Homo sapiens: one gene and its partners. The protein of the gene in region 1 purifies or fractionates together with the protein of each later gene. This does not show direct contact. Each region holds a gene or a part of one and is shown in the gene's direction. Other genes may lie near its edges. The genes, in order: PRMT8, HNRNPUL2, HNRNPU and CHTOP.

Region 1 (7,804 bases):
TTTTAGTCCAGAATACTTAGCACTTGCTTGGCCCATAGTCATATAAAGTTAACAGAAAAAAATATGTATTAAGTTATTGCACTGGAAAGACTGAATGGCTTCCAGTTGGCTTTCAGGGATTCCAGAGAGATTTCCCATAAAAAGGTGAGCCTTAATGAAAGATTTAAAAAGGAGGAAAGGAGTAGAGTATACAACGTCCACCCAGTAGAAAAAGCTAATTCTGTTGTGGCAGCACAACAGAATCTTTTGGGTCTTTCTCATCCTTAGAGAAAGGTAGGTAACAAGAGTATTCAACTTTTTAGAATAAAACAGCAGGATTAAGCTATAAATGCAGAAGTATTATACTAAGAAAATGCCTCCCAGATATTGTTAAAGCAAATAGTATCATATCCAGCACAAAACCGCAGTGAATTGATTTAATCAGACATTATCAGAGCAAGGAAGAAATAACATTCTGGTTTTAATGGCAAAAGAAAAATCCCACCTCATATTGCTTTGCAGGTATTGGTGGCACTCAGCGAGTTGTTCTTTGGAATGCAGTTTAAAAATATTGGGCCTTGGGTTAGGGAGGAATAGGACCACAGAGGCTTTTGTGTAGGAGAACGGCCCAGGTGTGGGGCTGCCTGGAGGCTCAGCCAGGTAGCTGGCTGCTGCAGCCTTGGCTTGGCTCCCATCTGGCCCAGAAGACACTAAGAACACTGCTGGGGTAGCTGCCATGAGGTGGTGATGGATCATGGCTCTGGCCTGATTCTCGAGGAGTCGTGGATTCACTGCAGTGTGCTGTGGCCATATGTGAACCCTGGCCATGTGTGAGGTCCCCTGGGAGGAGGAGGAGAAAACCACATAATATGTCGCCCCTTTCAGCAGCAACGACCATTGGAACAAGCTAGAGCCTGAGATTTCCCAGGCAGCATGGTCCGCAGTTAAAATGCTGCTTCCTGATTCTAGGGGCCTGGGATTTTGGGCAGCAGCAAAAGGAAGTGTTGGTTGGCCCCTGGAGATGAAGTATGGTACAGTCTTCACCTTCTGGGGTTCCAGCATGGGCTCAGAGTTGACAGGAGACAGAATTACAGAGTCCCAGCACAAGGCAGGTGGAACCTCAGAGGGCTTGCTCAACCTTCTGGCGTTTGTGGGGCCTCTACATCATTTACGCCAACAATTAATCTAACTGAGCCTTTCCAGTAATAGGAAACTCACTTCTTCTGCAGCATCTCACAAAGCTGGATAACCTTTGTAATTGTAACCCTCCCCAAGGGTCTCATCCCAACCATCAACACAGCTTTCCTCCAGTCCAGGCCTCTCAAGAACCTGTGAGTTAGAGATAGACCTCCTTACAGTGTGGGGTTCTTGTTTTGGATCTTCTGTAACTTAGGGATCTTCTTCCTCTGCAGGTGTTTTTGTCTCCAGATATTCTTGTCCAGTTGTCCTCCAATCATCACTGTCCCTTAGAATTAGAGGCTTAAAGAATCCTGATGCCCAAACCTCACTAAATCATACTCTCTGGGGGTAGAACTAAAGCACTGGTATTTTTAAAGCTCTCCAGATGATTCCACTGTATAGCCAAGGTTGAGAACCACTGTCTTGCTCCCTGAACCTGGTCAACTTCTTGAGGTTTATGCTATGGAATCAGGTATCTTAGATTTGAATCTTGCCTCTACCACTTGGGCAATTCCTTGTGTTTTTGTTTTCTCATCTGTTATATGGGGATAATTGTATCTACCTCAAAAAGCTGTTGAACGGGCTACATGAGAACACAGGTAGGTCAAGAATAATCTCTGGCATATAGTAAGTGTTCTATAAGACTTAGCAAGTGTTCTATAAAATTTAACTCATGTGCCTAGGACAGGGCCTAGCGAATGTTGACATAATATTTGTGCACTTGCCATGAGATAGGCATTGTTCTAAGCACTCTACTTTTGTTGTGTTGAAGATCTAGTATAAGAAAAATTACATAAATAAAATGCGTCTTCAGAACCTCTTTACCTGGTAGGGTCTATTGTTTCAAACTACCCATTTGACTCACACACTAGTGAACTCTCTGAACCCCTTATCATCCCACATGTTTTCTTGCCTCCCATGAAAATCTCCTTAAGAGTTCTACAGAAGATCTGTACCTGTAAAAGCATCCAACATGACTACATTAAGAGCTCATCAATGGTCAATTCAATATGTTTTGTTGCCTCTTGTTAAGGCTAGTGCCTATTAATGAGCTGGGCATTTAAGAGATGCCTAGTAAATTATTTGTGGGATGACTAAACTAATTAACCTGGTGAAAGACTATGCTAATATATTTTTGCAAAAGAGATAGAGAAAGACTGAATTCACAGGAATGGTAGGGATGCTGAGAAAATAGTTCTACAAAGTACCTACTATGTGCTAGGCACTTTTCACAATCATAAGATGTGAATGTTCAGGTCATCTCTTGGTGTATAACAAATCACCCCAAACTTCGTCTCTTAAAGTAATAATTAGCTTGCTTGTGAATTTGTTCTTAGGTGGTTACATAGCAGGAACAGCACCTCTTTGTTCTAAGACAGCTCAACAGGGGGCTAGAGTATCCACTTTCAAAACAGTTCACTCCTGTACTCCAGCCTTTATGGAACCACCCTAGTGGCATAGGCTCCTCACTCACAGCCCCAGGCTGGCTCTGGGTTGGATGGGTTGGGACAGAAAACTCTTGCCATGAAAATATAGCTCTCCATCTCAGCCTCTCCACTCCCCATTCCAAAGGGAGACGTGTCTGTGCTTGGGGAGAAGCCAAGCAAAGCAAAAGATTTCAACAGCGAAAGGAGGAAACACACCCACTGAGGTTCTCATAGCAACATAATCACGCACAGGCAGCAGCCTATTTCGGTGGGAGCTTGTTTCAGCTCCCCTCCTCCCTGGTTAGTCACAGAAGGCATGCACAAGCAGAAGCAGTGTTGGGTGGGGGCAGAGTGTCGGACTGAAAGTCAGGAGGCTGGGGAGCTGGGTCCTCTGCTTGCTGATGGACCATGGGCAAATGTCCTCCTCTCTCCAATCTTGGGGTCCTTATTTGTAAAATGAGAGGATTGGACCACAGAGCGGTGAGGATCATTTCTTTTCTGATTTCCTTTGATTGCACAAACACTGAGACACTTTTGGTAGGGAATTAGATGTCTCTCAGAATCTTTTGTCTCTGAGAAGATGCCTAGAGAAAAGGGAATTCAATAGGATAAAAGTCATTCTCCAGATTCACATTTATTTTCCTACCACTTTCTGCATGTTGACAGAACGGGAGGAACGACTGGGTGTTGTCAAGGATTCTGCTCACTCACCCCCAACTCTAACCCAGGTCTGTGTTCTGAGAAGGGAAAAGGTTAAGGAGGTTAAGGTCATCTTTTTATTCAAGTTTTCACACACACACACACACACACACACACGCGCGCACACACACACACACACACTCAAGCCTCTTGCTACATTTTCATCCTTCTCATTCTTCATCCTCTCCTGTCTCTATCCCTCACTTCTCACCTCTACTTAGTGCAATGTATCCTCTCTTTGCCCGAGGACCAGATGATGGAGGCATGTTTCCTACTGAGAATGATTCTAGACCTTTTCTTCAATGGACTCTGGGGTTAGTTGAGGACAGTCAGGCTCACACTTCCCAGTTATCGAAGGTGATGATAAAAAGCAAATAGGGCATTTGGGAGGGACCTCCCCAAACAAGTACAGAGATGAAGTGAAGACAGCCGGGTGCTCAGGGAGCATCTTATAGGTCTCAGTCCTTGACTCGTAGGTTGAAAGCTTAAAAGTACAGCTGTTTTAAGGAGTCAGCCTGAGTGTCCTGTTGCAAAGGGAGAGGCAGAATGGGGTCCCCCGCTTTTGTTCTATCTCCCACTGCCCGACAGATGGCCAGTAAAACAGAGAAAAAGAAGCTCTCAAAGTGAAGACAGGAATGCATTGTATAAAAATTCACACCCCCTGCTGCCGCCCAAACTCCCTTAAAAAAGGATCAAGAGAATCCTGACGGGTACGTGACATCCTCCCTCTCTCCCATAAAAGGGACTTCAAAATCTGGCGATGGTGGGGGAAGGGTGAGGAGGGAGAAGAGAAATGCGTGGGCAGGGGGCTGCCAGGGAAGACTGGAGTGGGGGGGGGGGCACTGCAGTCTCGCATTTGACTTTCTCCCACCCTCTTTCCCAAGCCACTCTGGCCGCCACCTTTGCCCCTCCCTCTCAGCCTGAAAGGGGCTTGGAGTCCCAAGGGCTTTGGGTACAAAGAGAGAGAGAGAGAGAGAGAGAGAGAGAGAGAGAGAGAGAGAGAAAAGGATAAAGAATGACACCACACTTACCCCTAGAGTTGAAGGAGTTAAGGACCCTCCCCCATCCAGACACCCACCCCTTCGTTCCCCAAATCGTAATTCGCCGAGGAAGGATCCAGGAACTGGCAGAGGAGCGGGAGAGCTGGGGTGGGCCGGGGTGGGGAGGGTGCGAGTTAACTGTGGCCCGGTCTCGCCCGGACCTCGCCCTAGGTGGGAGCACGCGCACCGGGTCTGAGAACCTGCAAGAGCCTCGCCCGGCGCCGGCTTTCTCTGGGCCCCCCGCGCGGGCCTGGCCTCCACGTAAGTTGTGTGCAGCGCCAGGGAGTGGAGGCGGCCGAGACCCTCGGAGACTAGGGGAGGGGGCGGGCCCGGGGGCGCTGGGGGCCCTCGGTCTGCGCCCAGCCGCCGCCGGCTCCAGCGAACCTCCTACCCCGCCCCCACTCACCCGGCTCAGCCCCTAGGAGAGACGCGCAGGAAGCGTGTTGCTTCGCCCAGCGGATCGGCAGAAGTTGAGAGGAGTTGGCGGCTGCCTCCGGCCGGCCGGACTTTGCGAGCAGCCTGGAGAGGATCCGCGACCGCCGCCGCCGCCGCCGCGGAGGCTTCGGGGCTGCTTCCCTCGAGCTTAGCCCGCAGCGCGGGTGGAGAGGGGCGGGGAGGGGGTCGGGGGCACGAGAAGAACTTGAAACCGTGTGAAGGAATCCGGAGCAGATGAGAAGGGAGGAAAATAAAAGAAAGTGGAGACTGCAGAACAGACTCCGCTGTGGCTGACTGTGCCGGCCGACGCTCCAGCTGAGGGGCTGGGTTGGATTTTTTTTTTTCTCCCATCCTCTCGCTCTCTCTTTTAAAGCGACACCAGCTCTCTCTCCTCCTCTACTATCTCGGTATCACCAAACCCTTGCCGGCTCTTATGGGCATGAAACACTCCTCCCGCTGCCTGCTCCTGAGGAGGAAAATGGCGGAGAACGCGGCCGAGAGCACCGAGGTAAGGAGGCGAGCGAGCAGGGGCTCTCGGAGACCCCGCCGCCCACCCGGACCACCGCGCCGCCGCCGCCGCTCAGCGCCGAGTGCCAAACTTTCCCCAGTTTCATCCCGCTCGCTTCTGCCGGCCTCCTCCTGTGTGTGTGTGTGTGTGTGTGTGTGTGTGTGTGTGTGTGTGTGTGTGTGTGTGTGTTGGTGGGGGGTGGGGGGGAAGTTCATGTCTCAGGTCCCCTCCCTCTTGAAAATGCAAAACAGTCACTCTCACCCCATCACCCTCTCCTGCCACCCGCTGCTCCCTTCTCCCGCCCCCAAGTCCCAAACCCCGGGCAGCCGCGCTCCCCTGCCCTCTCCTCTGGGCTCCGTGAGGGCTCCCGGGTCCCGGCTTTGTGCAGAGCTGGGGTGGGTAATCCTGGGGCCAGGTCTGCCCCCTGCAGTGCCTTGACCGTCTCCTGCCGCTGCCTCAGCTTTACCCTTCAAGCTCGAGTCGGTTCCCGAGCTCTCCGTCCCCGCAGCCGCGCGGAGAGCCCCCGGCCGCGGGGGCCGAGCCGGCAGGAGGACTCGGGCACCTCCTACAGACCCTCCGGCCCAGATCTGGGCCAGAGAGAAGTCTGCAATCCTCAGATATCAGAGCCGCCTCTGGGTAGCTAAACCCGGCAGGGCACACGGGCCGCGGCCACCTTCAGCACCAGGGACAGCGTCCGCCCCTGCAGCAGCCGAGCCTGCGCGGACTGTGGGGGCTGCGCGCCGCCGGCTGCAGTGAGAAATGGGTCTGCAGCCACCCGTCCCGCAAGGGCTTTTGAGGAGGTCGCTCTAGCTCCGCAAATTGTGTTCTCGGCCCCCGCCTTCGGCAGCCTTTTTCTCTACTCTCCAGCTGGCCCTGAGCCGCAGAGAGCCCTGCTGGGCTTTGCGTCCCGAGACTCGAGGCTGTGATCCCTCGCCTCCCTCTGACCCCGCTGTCATTACAACAACCGGACTATTCCGTAGGCTCTGGGCACCTGTAGTCACGAAGGGGATCAGCGTGGGCAGCCCCCTTACCTTCCTGGAGAAACGGTGCGCCGAGATGGGGGCGGAGTGGGGCATGTGTGTGAAGATCATCCCTTACTCAGTGGCAGGAAAAAGACACAGAGAGCAAACTCCCAGGCTCTATTAATAGCTGGGTGTCTGGTGGGGCTGCCGCACATTTCACATATGGTTACCCATATGCAGCGGGGGGCGGGGATGGGGGTGTGGCGCGGGGATTGTCCCTCTGTCTTGCCGGAATGCAAAAAGGTAGAGAGACCCTTCCTGGTCTTCTTCCCTCGAGTTCTTAACTCTGCGCTAAAACCCCTACCCCACGGCGTAGGCAGCAAAGCTTTATAAATCCCCCTTCTCTGAGAGACTAGAAGCAGCATGCATCTGACAATTGTCAATTTCAAAACAAACACGCTCCGGGACTTGAACGCAGCGGGGCATTCAGTAGCGAATGCTGTCTCCTTGAGTTAGGGCAAAGCCTGCGTGCCCGCCGTCCCCTCACCACTTCCTCTTCCCCAGCCCCCACCTGAGAGCAGACATTCGGAATGATGTGTAGTGCGAGGCGGCTAGCCTCCCAGCAGAAAGCCATCCTTACCATTCCCCTCACCCTCCGCCCTCTGATCGCCCACCCGCCGAAAGGGTTTCTAAAAATAGCCCAGGGCTTCAAGGCCGCGCTTCTGTGAAGTGTGGAGCGAGCGGGCACGTAGCGGTCTCTGCCAGGTGGCTGGAGCCCTGGAAGCGAGAAGGCGCTTCCTCCCTGCATTTCCACCTCACCCCACCCCCGGCTCATTTTTCTAAGAAAAAGTTTTTGCGGTTCCCTTTGCCTCCTACCCCCGCTGCCGCGCGGGGTCTGGGTGCAGACCCCTGCCAGGTTCCGCAGTGTGCAGCGGCGGCTGCTGCGCTCTCCCAGCCTCGGCGAGGGTTAAAGGCGTCCGGAGCAGGCAGAGCGCCGCGCGCCAGTCTATTTTTACTTGCTTCCCCCGCCGCTCCGCGCTCCCCCTTCTCAGCAGTTGCACATGCCAGCTCTGCTGAAGGCATCAATGAAAACAGCAGTAGGGGCGGCCGGGCTCCTGCGAACAACAACAAAACAAACAAACAAAAAACCACGTCGCGTGCGGGGCACCAAGGCGGTGCGGGGAGGGACAGACCCAGCTGGGGCTCCTTGGAGGGGTGTGAGCCAGGTTGGCGGATCGGTTCTTAGCAACTTCCCTGGAGAAGGGGTAGAACCCAGACTTGGTCAAACGTGCCTAGCGGAGGCATCCAGGCAGCGTGACAATCACTTGGTTTCCCTCCAGGAACTGGCTGTTTTTGGAATAAGCCAGGACTAGAGCAGCACTTCCAAAAGTGGGGTGTTGTGGACTTGCCTGCATTTATGGTAGATGAGAGCGGCAGGAGCACGCCTCCACGTGTGTCAGTGGGTGGTGGGGAGCGTGGTAGTGGTCCTAGTTCTGAATTCCACACCTCTTTGTCAAGCACCGGCTCTGTACCAGGAAAGCTAGGTACCCAAGTTCCAAACATGAGGACCACCTG
Region 2 (7,043 bases), on another chromosome or scaffold:
GTCTATTAGTTGTGAGCTTATTCTACACTCCAGTATGAAAACTGCTGATTTTCTTTCCCTCGTTTTTGTAGGAGATGACCAGGATAGTGAAAAGTCAAAACCAGCAGGCTCAGATGGTGAGCGGCGGGGGGTAAAGAGACAGCGGGATGAGAAGGATGAACATGGCCGAGCTTACTATGAATTCCGAGAGGAGGCTTACCACAGCCGGTGAGGGAAACAGTCCCTTTCGTTGAAGGGAGTGTCTGCTCTGATTTTGGTATACCTGGTATTGACTGGAGAGACTGGAAGGAGGGTGGATTCAAAATGGAATAGGTTTTTATAGGCATGAGTTTTAGATTGCATCTACCATGGAAACTCCTATTGCCCTTTCTCATTTATTGGAAAAAGCTGTCTGCTGGGATTTGATATTCACTGACAGTTTAAAATGGACATAATGTCATACACACACACCCCTCAAAGAAGAGGGCTTTGTTTACATTGTGTTTCTTTTCTATCTTACATATATAGCTCAAAGTCTCCACTGCCTCCTGAAGAAGAGGCAAAAGATGAGGAGGAGGATCAAACTCTTGTGAACCTGGACACGTGTATGTATAAGGCAGACAGACTGTGGTTTTTAACTAATCTCCTAAAAGTGATTTTGGAGATTAAAACTTCATAGCCTATAAATTCTATGAGACTTTGTATCCACTACAACAACTGGTATACTTATGCTCTGTTGGCGGCTTACAAGTATTGGACATTGGAGTAAACTGATTGCTTCTTTCTTTACAGATACCTCGGATCTGCATTTTCAAGTGAGCAAAGACCGCTATGGAGGGCAGCCACTTTTCTCAGAGAAGTTCCCCACCCTTTGGTCTGGGGCAAGGAGTACTTACGGAGTGACAAAGGGAAAAGTCTGCTTTGAGGCAAAGGTAGCTCATTAAGACCATTCATTCATTCATTCATTTATTACTGGATGCTTACGGTTCTTAGAGGGGGAAAAGAAGATTATTATCTCTTTTTTTTTGAGATGGAGTTTCGCTCTTGTTACCCAGGCTGGAGTCCAGTGGCACCATCTCGGCTCACCACAGCCTCTGCCTCCTGGGTTGAAGCGATTCTCCTGCCTCAGCCTCCCGAGGAGCTGGGATTACAGGCATGCGCCACCACACCTGGCTAATTTTGTATTCTTAGTAGAGATGGGGTTTCTCCATGTTGGTCGGGCTGGTCTTGAACTCCCGACCTCAGGTGATCCGCCCGTCTTGGCCTCCCAAAGTGCTGGGATTACAGGCATGAGCTACCGCACCTGGCTGGGGAAGAAATATTTTTTTAAAAAGACCGTTCATTTATTCATTAAGCTACTACCTATGTATACTGGACTTCTGTCCAATCAGGCTTTTATTAGTGCAGGTAGGTAAAAGCACTGTGCTTTAACAAGAACCTTAGTTTCAGTAACCAAGAAATTGATCCCTGTGGCTTTAAGTTCAGTGATTGTTATTCTGATGTTGAGTTGAGGTAAATGTCGTTTTCAGTTTGTATAAAAATCTTGTCCTTCGAACTCAGAGTTTGCTACTCAGTTGGTCACAATATCTAATAGTTCCCTTTCTGACTTGGCCAGGTAACCCAGAATCTCCCAATGAAAGAAGGCTGCACAGAGGTCTCTCTCCTTCGAGTTGGGTGGTCTGTTGATTTTTCCCGTCCACAGCTTGGTAAAGTTATTTCTTTAAGTTCCTCATTAGTGTTTACTACCATATTGCTTACTCTATGGGAAGTCCGGTTGTAGGTAACTAATTTGTTGACTGTTCTAGGTGAAGATGAATTCTCTTACGGTTTCGATGGACGAGGACTCAAGGCAGAAAATGGACAATTTGAGGAATTTGGCCAGACTTTTGGGGAGAATGATGTTATTGGCTGCTTTGCTGTAAGTGCTCCTGAAAGTTGTGGGTTATAACAAGGAGCGGATAGAGGGCACTGGGAATTCACTTGTGCTTCCCATCAACTGCTGGCTTTTATGCATGTGATGTGTGTGGCTCGCTTAGTTACTTTGTGCAGCAGTCTGTGTGAAAAAAGAATAAATTGTAAAGTTTAATCAACCCAAAGCCTCGTCAGCCAATAAGTGCTCTTGTCCCTTGTCATTGTAGAATTTTGAGACTGAAGAAGTAGAACTTTCCTTCTCCAAGAATGGAGAAGACCTAGGTGTGGCATTCTGGATCAGCAAGGATTCCCTGGCAGACCGGGCCCTTCTACCCCATGTCCTCTGCAAAAATTGTGTTGTAGAATTAAACTTCGGTCAGAAGGAGGAGCCCTTCTTCCCACCACCAGAAGAGTTTGTGTTCATTCATGCTGTGCCTGTTGAGGAGCGTGTACGCACTGCAGTCCCTCCCAAGACCATAGAGGAATGTGAGGTATGCCAAACAGTATACGAACACTGAGGTTGTATGCTTTGCAGAGGTGGGTGCGTATGCTCTCCAGGGTCTCAGAGCGTTACCAAACAGGAATGGGAGGATGTTCTTAAATTGGTTTTGATAAACATGACCCTCATTTATTTTTCATTATATTTCTGGTTCTGTTTTTTGCAGGTGATTCTGATGGTGGGACTACCCGGATCTGGAAAGACCCAGTGGGCACTGAAATATGCAAAAGAAAACCCTGAGAAAAGATACAATGTCCTGGGAGCTGAGACTGTGCTCAATCAAATGAGGGTAAGTTGCTGTTGGGGATTTGTCGGATACAGTATTTGGAGACTCTTATAACCTATCTTTAATGGAGAATTAGTCTCAAGTGTCTGAGAACAAGGGTCCCAGAAATAGAGAAATGAGATTTTTCTCTATGCGTTTTAGGTGGATTGATTTTTTTTTTCTTTGCTGTGTTGTCAAATTTCTGAAAGCAGATGAGATCTGAAATACATCCAGGTTAAGACTAGATAGAAATGACTACTGCAGGAAATGGACAACATTCACAGCACTGAAGAATGGGAATAGAGTGATATCATAGATTCAGTATTTGAAGAGGTGACATTTACCAATAACTCTTGGGCTTTAACTTGCAATATAACTTGTGTTTTGTTTTTTTTTTTCACTTCCTCTCAAACTAATCAGATGAAGGGTCTCGAGGAGCCAGAGATGGACCCCAAAAGCCGAGACCTTTTAGTTCAGCAAGCCTCCCAGTGCCTTAGTAAGCTGGTCCAGATTGCTTCCCGGACAAAGAGGAACTTTATTCTTGATCAGGTATTAATCTGATAAAATTGCCTAGAGTCAAGGTGGGATGTGTATATAAAGAGAGACTGAATTAAGGAGCAGAGTCAGCTTACCTAATTATGACCATCTGGTTGTGTGTTATGGTTGCAATGTTTTTTGAACTCAGAGGTACCCCTAATTAGTGTTTTTACTTGAAAATATATGGACCCAGGCTATAAAACATGTAATAAAGACAATGGAAAGAGTTGGAACTCATTTGAATTCCTGGCTCCACCACATTCTGGTTTGTGATCTTGGATAAGTCCCTTATCCTTTCTGAACCTCAGTTTCCCTGATGAGCAAAACAGGATAATACCTGTCATGTAGTTTGAAAAGTTAAAGAAGATCATGTGTATTGACCCTTTATCTCGTGTCTAAGTTGTCAAAGATACTGAGTCTTTTTTTTTTTTTTTTTTTTTTTTGAGACCGAGTCTCGCTCTGTCGCCCAGGCTGGAGTGCAGTGGCGCTATCTCGGCTCACTGCAAGCTCAGCCTCGTAGGTTCATGCTATTTTCCTGCCTCAGCCTCCCGAGTAGCTGGGACTACAGGTGCCCGCCACCATGCCTGGCTAATTTTTTGTATTTTTAGTAGAGACAGGGTTTCATCGTGTTAGCCAGGATGCTCTTGATCTCCTGACCTCATGATCTACCTGCCTCAGCCTCCCAAAGTGCTGGGATAACAGGATTATAGGCGTGAGCTGTCACGCCCGGCCTTTTTTTTTTTTTTTTTTTTTTTTTTTTGAGATGGAATCTTGCTCAGCCGCCACCCAGGCTGGAGTACAGTGGCGTGATCTCAGCCCACTGCAACCACCATCTCCTGGGTTCAAGCGATTCTTCCGTCTCAGCCTCCCAAATAGCTGGGATTACAGCACCCACCATCATGCCGAGTTAATTTTTGTATTTTAGTATAGATGAGGTTTCACCATGTTGGCCAGGCTGGTCTTGAACTCCTGACCTGAGATGATCTGCCCACCTCGGCCTCCCAAAGTGCTAGGATTACAGGCGTGAGCCACCGTGCCCAGCTGATACTGATTCTTTTGGTTAAATCTGAGTGATAATTTTCTTCCTAAACATCAGTTATTCCTCCTGTTCTTAGTGTAATGTGTACAATTCTGGCCAACGGCGGAAGCTATTGCTGTTCAAGACCTTCTCTCGGAAAGTGGTGGTGGTTGTCCCTAATGAGGAAGATTGGAAGAAGAGGCTGGAGTTGAGGAAGGAAGTAGAGGGAGATGATGTGCCTGAATCTATAATGCTGGAGATGAAAGGTGGGTGTCTTAGTCCATTTTCTGCTGCTATAACAGAATACCATAGACTTCATAATTTGTAAGTAATAGAGGTTTATTTCCCTCATTCTGGAGGCTAGGAAGTCCAAGAGCATAGCATTAGCATCTGGTGAGGTCCTTCTTGCTGCATCATTCCATGTCAGGAGGGCAAAAGGCAAGAGGGCACATGTGAGAGAACTTGCTTTTATAACAAAGCCACTTTCACAATAATGGCATTAATCTATTCATGAGGATGGAATCCTCATGACCAAATCACATTAAAAGTCCCACCCTCTCAATACTGCTCATTGGGGATTAAGTATTCAACACTTGTACTTTGGTGGGACATAACTCAAACCATAGCAGTGGGCTAAAATTGTACAAGTTAAAGAGATCTTATCCCTGGTCAGTGCACACCTTATTGAGGTCTCTTAGCAACTGGAGTGACACTCTACATCTAAAATGTAAATCTGAAGAGGAACTTAATGGTCGTGAGCACTTGTAGATAAATGAATGAACAGAGAGAAGCAATAATTTTGACTCATTGTTTTCTTGGTTTGTTTTGGTTTGGTTTTGAGACAGAGTCTCACCCTGTTGCCCAGCCTGGAGTGCAGTGGTGTGATCTCAGCTCACTGCAACGTCCACCTCCTGGGTTCAAGTGATCCTCTTGCTTCAGCCTCCCAAGTAGCTGAGATTACAAGCATGTGCCACCATGCCTAGCTAATTTTTGTATTTTTAGTAGAGATGGGGTTTCGCCATATTGCCCAGGCTGGTCTTGGAACTCCTGACTTCAGGTGATTTGCCCGCCTTGGTCTCCTAAAGTGCTTAGATTATAGGCATACGCCGCTGTGCCTAGCCGCCTTGGCTCGTTTTGAAAAAGATACAGAAAGGGAAATAGTGAGCCAGGCGCGGTGGCTGACGCCTGTAATCCCAGCACTTTGGGAGGTTGAGGTGGGTGGATTACAAGGTCAGGAGCTCACAACCAGCCTGGCCAAGATGGTGAAACCCTGTCTCTACTAAAAATACAAAAAAAATTAGTCGGGCATGGTGGTGGGCGCTTGTAATCACAGCTACTCGGGAGGCTGAGGCAGAGAATTGCTTGAACCTAGGTGGCAGAGTTTGCGGTGAGCTGGGATTGTGCCACTGCACTCCAGCCTGGACAACAGAGTGAGAAGACTCGGTCTCAAAAAAAAAAAAGTGACCGTAGGGTAATTTAAACTCAAAGGATCAAGGGAGAGGCTTCTGTGAATCAGTTATTTGTTAAGTAAATATTTCTGGTACATCTACTGTTTGTCTACATTTCTTATTCTGCTTTTTTTTTTTTTTTTTTTAAAGACAGAGTCTTGCCCTTGTCGCCCAGGTTGGAGTACAGTGGCGCGATCTCGGCTCACTGCAACCTCCGCCTCCCGGGTTCAAGCGATTCTCCTGCCTCAGCCTCTTGAGTAGCTGGGATTACAGGTGCCCGCCCAGCTAATTTTTGTACTTTTAGTAGAGACAGGGTTTCGCCATGTTGGTCAGGCTGGTCTCGAACTCCTGACCTCAGGTGATCTGCCCGCCTCGGCCTCCCAAAGTGCTGGGATTACAGGTGTGTGCCACTGCGCCTGGCCGCAGGGAGAGATTATTATGGTTCAGATTAAAATATGGCAGTTGGAGTGAATGATCTCATTGGTATAACTTGATTTCTGGTATCACGTTATGTTTGTGTTTTGTTTGTTAATTTGGCTGAAGTCTGTAATGCAATACATAAGACAGAGAGTAATGTCTACATAAGAAATATTAATATTTTGATTGATCCTCCTATTCCCTTAAAACGTGATTTTTTTTCCCATTGCTGCCTTTAGTTCCTGACATCCCACCGAGTCTAGCAACTGCTTGCTCTTCAAATACTGATAATCCCCAGGCATGGGAACTGGTTTGCATATCTATGAGCCAGATCCTCAGAGTTTACTGAGAATGAACTATGCCAGTCCATAACTCTTACTTAGGCACTCAGAGAAATGTAGCTCAGTTTTATAAAATTGAGGGCCAACTGGATTCATCTAAGAATCATGAGAGCCCCATTGAACTGAATTTCCACTGGGACTCAGCTTCTGAAGTTGACGTCCAGAGACTGGCAGATGTGCTGGCCTATCACGGACAGGTGGTAAATGAGAGCCCTTGTACTCTTGTCTTCTCTTCTCCTTGTATAGATGAGCAGATGCCTTTAGGCTTGGGTCAGTTTCTCATTGAGTCTCTCTTCTGTCAGCGAGGCCAGAGTGCAGTGGCACTCAGCCTCCCGAGTAGCTGGGATAACAGGCACCTGCCACCATGCCTGGCTAATTGTTGTATTTTTAGTAGAGACAGGGTTTCACCATGTTGGCCAGGCTGGTCTCGAACTCCTGACCTCAAGCAGTCCGCCTGCCTTGGCCTCCCAAAATGCTGGGATTACAGGCGTGAGCCACCATGCCCGGCCATCTCTGAGTCTCTTTTTAAAATGTTATTTCTTAGCATCTTATCTGACCAACACCAGAACTTTCTCAGTTACTTTTAGCCTCTGGTTACCTGCTTCTGTCCTGATGAGAAACTTTAACC
Region 3 (4,790 bases), on another chromosome or scaffold:
ATTGATGTTTTTTCTTTAAAAACAAAATTTTCTCTTACAGCAATTCTGGGGTCAGAAGCCATGGAGTCAGCATTATCACCAAGGATATTATTGAATACCCAAATAAAACGAACTGATACATATTTCTCCAAAACCTTCACAAGAAGTCGACTGTTTTCTTTAGTAGGCTAACTTTTTAAACATTCCACAAGAGGAAGTGCCTGCGGGTTCCTTTTTTAGAAGCTTTGTGGGTTGATTTTTTTTCTTTTCTTTTTTGTACATTTTTAATTGCAGTTTAAAAGTGAATCGTAAGAGAACCTCAGCATTGTGCACGATAAGAGAATGTGTCAGTATTTCAGGGTTCTACATTTTATCTGTAAAATGTGACTTTTTTTTTTTTTTATCACAACAGAAGTAAAATGTTGCTTTGTACCTGGTGTCTTTTATTAAGAATTTACTCCCCCCATTTCTCACAGAGAATAACAGTCGGGAGTCATTGTCACAATATAATAGAAATGTTAGCAACCAGATTCATGTAAGGACTAAGTGGTCCTCATGAATTGCATTAAGACTCTGTACTGCTCATATTACACTCCATCCTCTCTGTAGTTTGCTGGGTAGTGGAGGGGGTAAGCTAAATCATAGTTTCTGACAATAACTGGGAAGGTTTTTTCTTAAAATAACAATGGAATTGGTATAATTGGGATTGAAAACTAAAACTTGGAACTAAGATAGAGAAGATGGAGTGTATGTAGAAGGGCTGTTAAAAATGTAAAACTTGGTTGCATTATTTGTGGAGGCTCAAACTTGTGAAGGTTAATACCATAATTTTTCCATTTGTTCTGCATTTTGATTCTGAAAAGAAAGCTGGCTTTGCCCATTTCTTATTAAAAAAACTTGTTGTAAATCCAGTTGTCTAATGGGATCTATATGAAGTTAGCCATGTCTGTATGCCCTTCTCCCACAAAATACTGTATAACTAGTGTGCTTGTAGTAGTTAACTCCACCATCTTTGTAAGCTAATGAAATTGTGAGTCACCCATTTATATCTTAATTTTTAATCATGTCAGTTCTTGAATGGGTATCTCCTTAGCCTGCTGATTTCTTTTTCTTTCTAAAGAAAGTGGGTGGAGAAATTAATTTAGACGTTTGTTTGCAATAAAAAGAATTCATTTTACTCTTGTTTTGGGATTCTCGCCATCAAGGTTCAAAATCCCTTTATATAACTCCCAAGAGGAGAAATTTATTAAGTGTGTGCTTTCTGGACAGCTTATTCTTTACTCTGCATAGAACATTTAGGTTTTAAAAACTTAAATGTATACTGACAATTGATACATAATTATGAAGTAAAGTTGAATTCTTCCCTTCCCCTCCCCCCCAGACAACTTTTAACATATTTAATGAGGGGAAAAGGTACTGGCTGGGAGAAGTTAACACTGAGTTTATCATCTTTACAGAATGCTAATGCTGTCCTCAACTGATTATTTTATATACATATATATGATACATGAAACTCTGGGATCAGATGCTTTTAGAAGCCATCATGCAAGCCAGTCATTGATGTCACTGCTACACAACACTGCTAACTTGACTGTAGCTATGTAATAACATTAGATCCCCTAATTGTAATTATATTGGGTTTGCACAGAACACTTTAATCTTCCCCTCACCAATGTGAAGTGAGGAATCAGGAGTCAAACTGTAGAACTAAAATTTGACTTCAGTCTAGCGTTTCCTTGGTGTTTTTAGGTTGCTTTGGTAAGTTTAGGTTTGCTATATTTCTGATTGCTTAGAATTTTGTTTTAGCCCTTTAAAATCAGATCATAAATATGAATTCATACTTCTAAGGAATTTTCTTGCTATAAGCTGGAGTTTAGGTGATGTATAGGTTCAGTTGAGACATTTTTGGAACAGGCAAATCCTTAGTTAACATAAGATATTTAACAGTTGAAGATAGTGTCATGGATTTTTATCTTTTTTAGCAAGTAATGCTAAGAACCACTGGCCTGAGCTACTACTCTTCAGTATACATTATTAGGATTGCATAGACTTACTAGAGGAACAGTTTCAGGTTTTGATGCTAATCAGTGTTGTGTCCTAAAGTTGTCCTTTGTGCCTTTAAAAAGTTTTGGATATATCTTCTAGTTTAAAATTGCTTATTAAGGAATTCATTTTATAATTGCAGTGGGAAAGTAATGGTCAAGTAACACTAGGTAGACTATCATGCCTGTTTAGCCCAGAGAATTTGGGGGGAGAGAGAATAGATAAAAATGGCACCCAGAAAAATGTTAAAATCTTTAGTCAAGACTAGAATTAATACAATTGTCTACACTTGTATGGCAGAAATAACCTTATAAAGTGTTTAAGGAATTCAGAGAAGGGAATGTACCAAATAAGCAACAGGGAGAAAATTAGGTAAGAAGTAAGATACGAACGAGAAACCTGATTTATTGCTCATCCTTCCCTTGCCTCCCTAATGGCAAGCAAAACTCTGAACATCTGAAAAGGATGTAGTTCTGGACAAATCCTGACTACCCAGAGGAAACTCACTGTGAGATTGCTGTTGATTTGAAGGGTGCTTTCACTAAGGTTATATTTTAAAGTAGAATAACACATGCTGAGTGTAAACTGGCTTTGGATTGGTCAGCTGCAGTAGTACAAAAACAGCATAGAATTTGAGAAAACTAAAACTGCTATGAGATAGCTATGAGAAAACTAAAACTGCTATGAGATAGAAATGATGTAAAATTATGTGGAAAGTTTTCCCTCATATACTCACATACAGCCTTTGAAGGGCTCTGGCTCTGACCGGTTGATGGCCTTGAGCGAGATGAAATCATGAAATTGAGTCAAATCAATTTGACATTGAAATGACAAGAGGAAACTCTTAAATACATAAAAACAAGCTCTCATTTGCCTAGGATAGATACTGTCTTAAAAATAAAGACTGAACCTAGATGTTCTGAGCACTAGCAACAAGGTATTTTAACAAGTTTAAAGGAATTCTCTGAAAAAGTTATAAAATTATTCTAGGAAACATAACCATAATAGTGTTTTAAGGGACTTTCACCTGGGGATTTTATATTCATGAACAGAGTGTATTCTGTATTTAAAATGTCTCATTTGTGGGAATTGGATGACATGTTTTTTGATAAATTTATTCACAATATAAATTGACTTTTTATTCTAGGACCATGTGAATAATGGGTTCCATTGCACAAATACAAATATTTTAATAGCTTCTTAGGCAGTGGTGTAGACATCTTGGATATAAATAATTGTAGATCTTGTATATTTGATTTTTAAAAAACTAGAATAAACAGAGAGGCATAAACATATCTTAGAGTCCAAGTGGTAGTGTTTAGCATTGGATATAATAAATGGATGTTTTACAAAGTGTTTCCATAATTCTCTTCCTATACATAAATGTCTTGTTTTCAAAAGTGGATGGAACTTGGCTGGGTGTGGTGGCTCACGCCTGTAATCCTAGCACTTTGGGAGGCCAAGGCGGGAGGATCACTTGAGCTCAGGAGTTTGAGACCATCCTGGGCAACATAGTGAGACCTGGTCTCTTGAAAAAAAAAAAGTGGATGGAACTTGTAGCAGAGAATTTTATCTACTTCTCAACCTGCTTCAGAATACCCATTTGAGATGTTCCCCTGGAAAGATGAACACAATACTGCATCTGAAGCCATTTCTTCCCACCTAACATTCTTAAAATGATTAGAGTCTAAACTTTGTCATTCATTCCTAATTCTGGAGCTCTGAGGTTGAGGTGTTCAGAGTTTGGTGAATAATTGGGTTTAAGTTTTAACATTTTAGTAATAATAAAAGCAAACACATACATGTTAAGGCCTGACAATAGGTTGCAATACCCATGCATTGGGACTCATACCCAGCATAAATGGTGAGGGACTGAACATTAGTGCTTTGAGCAAGAATTGGTTAACTACCTGAGATCTCTAAAACAGTAATTTGAATTACTAATACATAAACCACAAGTCTCTTCGAATTGTTAATTGCCTAAATTTACCCTAAAACTTAGTTAACGCTGCAGTGCCTTTATTAAAGCTTTTTTTTGGGGGGGGGTGTGGGCACAGCTACTCCATAACTTTAAATTTTAAAGCATGAAGGTGATCTAGCTAGTGTTAGTGCTTGAGTTGGTAGTTACATAGGCTGCTCTTGAATCGTCCTGTTTTCTTTGCCTAGTATTAGCACCACAGGTACATATTTGTAAAATAAGCATTAAAAGTACTTTGTCCAGCTAACTCATGTTGGAGTGACCTTTGTCTTACTAACCTTTGTTACTAAACTTGTTAATTAGAATAAGCCCTTGAGAATTTGGAAGTGAGCTATACTACTAATGTAGTATATATCTCTTGAGTGTGTTGGAGTAGATGAAAAACCAGGGGTCCCCAAGGGTATATTTTTGAAATTGAACAGAAACAATTCATCTTAATATTTAGTTTTCATTATGTTTAGCTTAATATGTGTGCTAGTTTATTTGGCGTCACACTTATGTCAATCTCAAGTCATGCAGAAATAGCACAGTCTCAGAAAAGAGGTTAGGTGGGAAATAGATGATATGCTTACATTATTGAGCAGGACTATGCTTTCACATCCTAACCAATTGACTAAAAATATAAATGATTGAAGTAATTTTCATTAGTTGCCCCAGGAGTCTTTAATAATAGTTTTAAGGGATAGTAGATTGGACATAGATAGATGGGTTATTCATAATGGATATTCATAATGGATATTCATAATGTTAACCTAGAATTATTCAGAAAATATAACACCTATGTAGTAGA
Region 4 (2,784 bases), on another chromosome or scaffold:
TCATGGGAGCCTTCTGGTTTAGAGCTTAGTGGAAAACTCCCAACACCTGTCCAGAAAAAAAACACTATTGAAGCCCCTGTGTATATTTGCTTTGGTTCTCTTAAAAGGTGTCTTGGGTCTTCCATAACTTATGACCTTGAAGTTGCCAAGGAATAATAACTGTTAGGAAAGAAAAGTTGATAACCAAGGGCTTGTTTTCTTCTCTCCCATTATATGATACTTACTGAGTGAAGTGCAAGCTAGTTTGGGTTTCAGGATGAAATAACATGTTTCCAAATTATCTTGACTTGGATCCTGAGAGACATCACGAGGGTGGGAGAGACTAAAATAGCTTTTCAAAAAGCTGAGTTTGTTTTGTTAACTGAATTCACACTGCTTCTCAGATAACCACAATTGTCAGTTGTCATAAGGTAACTAGAATTAAAGGTAGAAATAGCTAGGACAACTCAAAATATTTTTTCAAATCTCCCCTACATTGTTCCTGTGTCAGAAAAACTCAGTCTCCTGACACATGAGGTCAGCTAGCTCATTAGACTTGATAAGTTTAAGGACAGGTGAGATGACTTTCCAGAAGGGTCTCCAATAAACTTAATTTGAAAACTGTCTTGTCTTCACACCCCTGATGCTCTGTGCTCTTGTTACCACCTCCCTATCTTACCAAATGGGGTTATCTGTCATGTATTTTAATTATGAACTTAGTGAATCTCAAATGTTAGGTAATTTTATCTTAGGATTGATTAAGGTTTTTTAAAATTATAGTTGCCAGTTAATTATTTTCCTTTATTGATAGAATAAAATTTGTTAAAATAGCATTTAGAGATGATCATGTGATAGAGGATTCATTATGTGTGCTTTCCATGTGTTGCTTTCTACCCATTGTGTTTCCTTTTTTTCCAGATTTCTCCTCTTTGCCCTGCCCTTCAGCTTTTCTCAGCTAGGCCCCACTGCTCTAAGGGGCATTTACTACAGCACCTATTAAACTTACTTGTAACTGTCTCTTTTTTTTTTTTTTTCCCCTTTGGGCCAGGTCGGGGTATGATAGGTCGGGGAAGAGGGGGCTTTGGAGGCCGAGGCCGAGGCCGTGGACGAGGGAGAGGTGCCCTTGCTCGCCCTGTATTGACCAAGGAGCAGCTGGACAACCAATTGGATGCATATATGTCGAAAACAAAAGGACACCTGGATGCTGAGTTGGATGCCTACATGGCGCAGACAGATCCCGAAACCAATGATTGAAGCCTGCCCATCCTCCCATGAGAGACTCTTGTTAGTCAACACATCTGTAAATAACCTTGAGATAACAGATGAGAAGAAATCTGATTGATGCTGGATGGACCTATCACAATAGGCTGTGGACTTACTTGCCACCAGCTTGTGCATTTAGTGTGTTCCTTTTACTTTTTGATACTGTGTTGTATGAAACCCTTTTGTCCTTTGATTTGGTTTTTTGTTTTTGTTTTTTTAGGGGGGAGGGGGGGTTTCCCCTCCTTTGCCCAGACTTCTCTTTGAACACAAATGCATTAGCCTTGTGGCTAGAACACCCTCTTCCTACCTCTGTCTCCCCTCACTTGTCATATGCTCTGACATGCTAACATTTCTTTTGTTCATCCCTGTTGCCCCCACAGAAACATCCCAGAAAAACCGGTCAGTGTTCCTTCCTCCCTGATCCTTAGGTTTCTGAAATAGGGTTCTGTTACATCCTCTTCGATAGCCTGTTTAAAATGTTTAGAAGGTCTGGAGCTCAAAAATGCGTTCTTCCACATTGATAATTTAGTAAACTGAGAACATTGACATCACTACAGGGCAGCATAAGAGGTTGCTTACATGTGGTAGCAGCTCTGGTTTGATTCAAGTTGCTACCATGTACATTGACAGCACATATACCATAACCAGCGTGTTGGGTTGAATTGCACTTTCTACCTTTGTATGAGATTTACAGACTTTCCTTCTGGGTTTGTATCATGACCAGAGGGGTACTATAGGGTTGGTTTATACTGCAATATAGAGGATCAGAAGCCATTTGATTTGGTAGGTGTGTCAGAAGGGAGAATGATGGCAGACGAACTGCTGGAAGAGGTCAGAAGATAGCCATGCTAAAATGCAATTATATCCTCATGTTTATCCCAAACTAATCTTGGACTTTTCCACTCATTAGCTTTGTTTTGCCCTTGTTTCCCTTGAAGGTTTAAGTTCAACCATATTCTGTCAACTGTTCAGTTTCAGTGGAATCTTGTATTTCTGGTTCATTATAACAAACTGTTCGCTTAAATCCACCCAGGACTCTCTTTATTTGAGGTGCCTCAAAATGCCATGGCTACTTTAATGATGTTTTTTTTTTTTTTTCTTGTGACCGAGTCTCGCTCCTGTCACCAGGCTGGAGTGCAGTGGCGCGATCTTGGCTCTGCAACCTCCAACTCTCTGGTTCAAGCGATTCTCCTGCCTCAGCCTCCCGGGTGGCTGTGACTACAGACATGTGCCACCACACCCAGCTAATTTTTGTATTTTTAGTAGAGATGGGGTTTCACCATGTTGGCCAGGATGGTCTTGATCTCTTGACTTGGTGATCCACCCGCTTCAGCCTCCCAAAATGCAGGGATTACAGGCGTGACCCACTTTCAGCCTCCCAAAGTGCAGGGATTACAGGCGTGACCCACTGCACCCAGCCACTTTAATGATGTCTTGATATACCCCTTGTATGGTTGAGAGTTTCTTTCTTCTTACTTGTGTTAAAATTCTGGAGAGCCTGTGGCTTTGAGCAGAAAGTGAAGAATTTGACTTCCTCTGAGC

The links.
Region 2: the proteins of PRMT8 (region 1) and HNRNPUL2 purify together in Homo sapiens (affinity purification with mass spectrometry; 4 studies listed by BioGRID and IntAct, with this or other methods). This does not show direct contact.
Region 3: the proteins of PRMT8 (region 1) and HNRNPU purify together in Homo sapiens (affinity purification with mass spectrometry; 5 studies listed by BioGRID and IntAct, with this or other methods). This does not show direct contact.
Region 4: the proteins of PRMT8 (region 1) and CHTOP purify together in Homo sapiens (affinity purification with mass spectrometry; 4 studies listed by BioGRID and IntAct, with this or other methods). This does not show direct contact.

Annotation. Positions count from the first base shown.
Region 1 is NC_000012.12:3,486,434-3,494,237, forward strand, and holds the start of PRMT8 (protein arginine N-methyltransferase 8), read left to right. Parts: upstream 1-4,769; 5' UTR 4,770-5,192; coding exon 5,193-5,267; intron 5,268-6,298; exon of another isoform or gene 6,299-6,386; intron 6,387-7,804. UniProt on the Homo sapiens protein: S-adenosyl-L-methionine-dependent and membrane-associated arginine methyltransferase that can both catalyze the formation of omega-N monomethylarginine (MMA) and asymmetrical dimethylarginine (aDMA) in proteins such as NIFK, myelin basic protein, histone H4, H2A and H2A/H2B dimer.
Region 2 is NC_000011.10:62,717,455-62,724,497, reverse strand, and holds part of HNRNPUL2 (heterogeneous nuclear ribonucleoprotein U-like protein 2), read left to right. Parts: intron 1-71; coding exon 72-207; intron 208-507; coding exon 508-584; intron 585-771; coding exon 772-911; intron 912-1,594; coding exon 1,595-1,685; intron 1,686-1,784; coding exon 1,785-1,897; intron 1,898-2,117; coding exon 2,118-2,381; intron 2,382-2,555; coding exon 2,556-2,678; intron 2,679-3,074; coding exon 3,075-3,203; intron 3,204-4,306; coding exon 4,307-4,475; intron 4,476-7,043.
Region 3 is NC_000001.11:244,849,754-244,854,543, reverse strand, and holds the end of HNRNPU (heterogeneous nuclear ribonucleoprotein U), read left to right. Parts: intron 1-40; coding exon 41-94; 3' UTR 95-4,247; downstream 4,248-4,790. UniProt on the Homo sapiens protein: DNA- and RNA-binding protein involved in several cellular processes such as nuclear chromatin organization, telomere-length regulation, transcription, mRNA alternative splicing and stability, Xist-mediated transcriptional silencing and mitotic cell progression.
Region 4 is NC_000001.11:153,644,037-153,646,820, forward strand, and holds the end of CHTOP (chromatin target of PRMT1 protein), read left to right. Parts: intron 1-1,027; coding exon 1,028-1,233; 3' UTR 1,234-2,270; downstream 2,271-2,784. UniProt on the Homo sapiens protein: Plays an important role in the ligand-dependent activation of estrogen receptor target genes. May play a role in the silencing of fetal globin genes.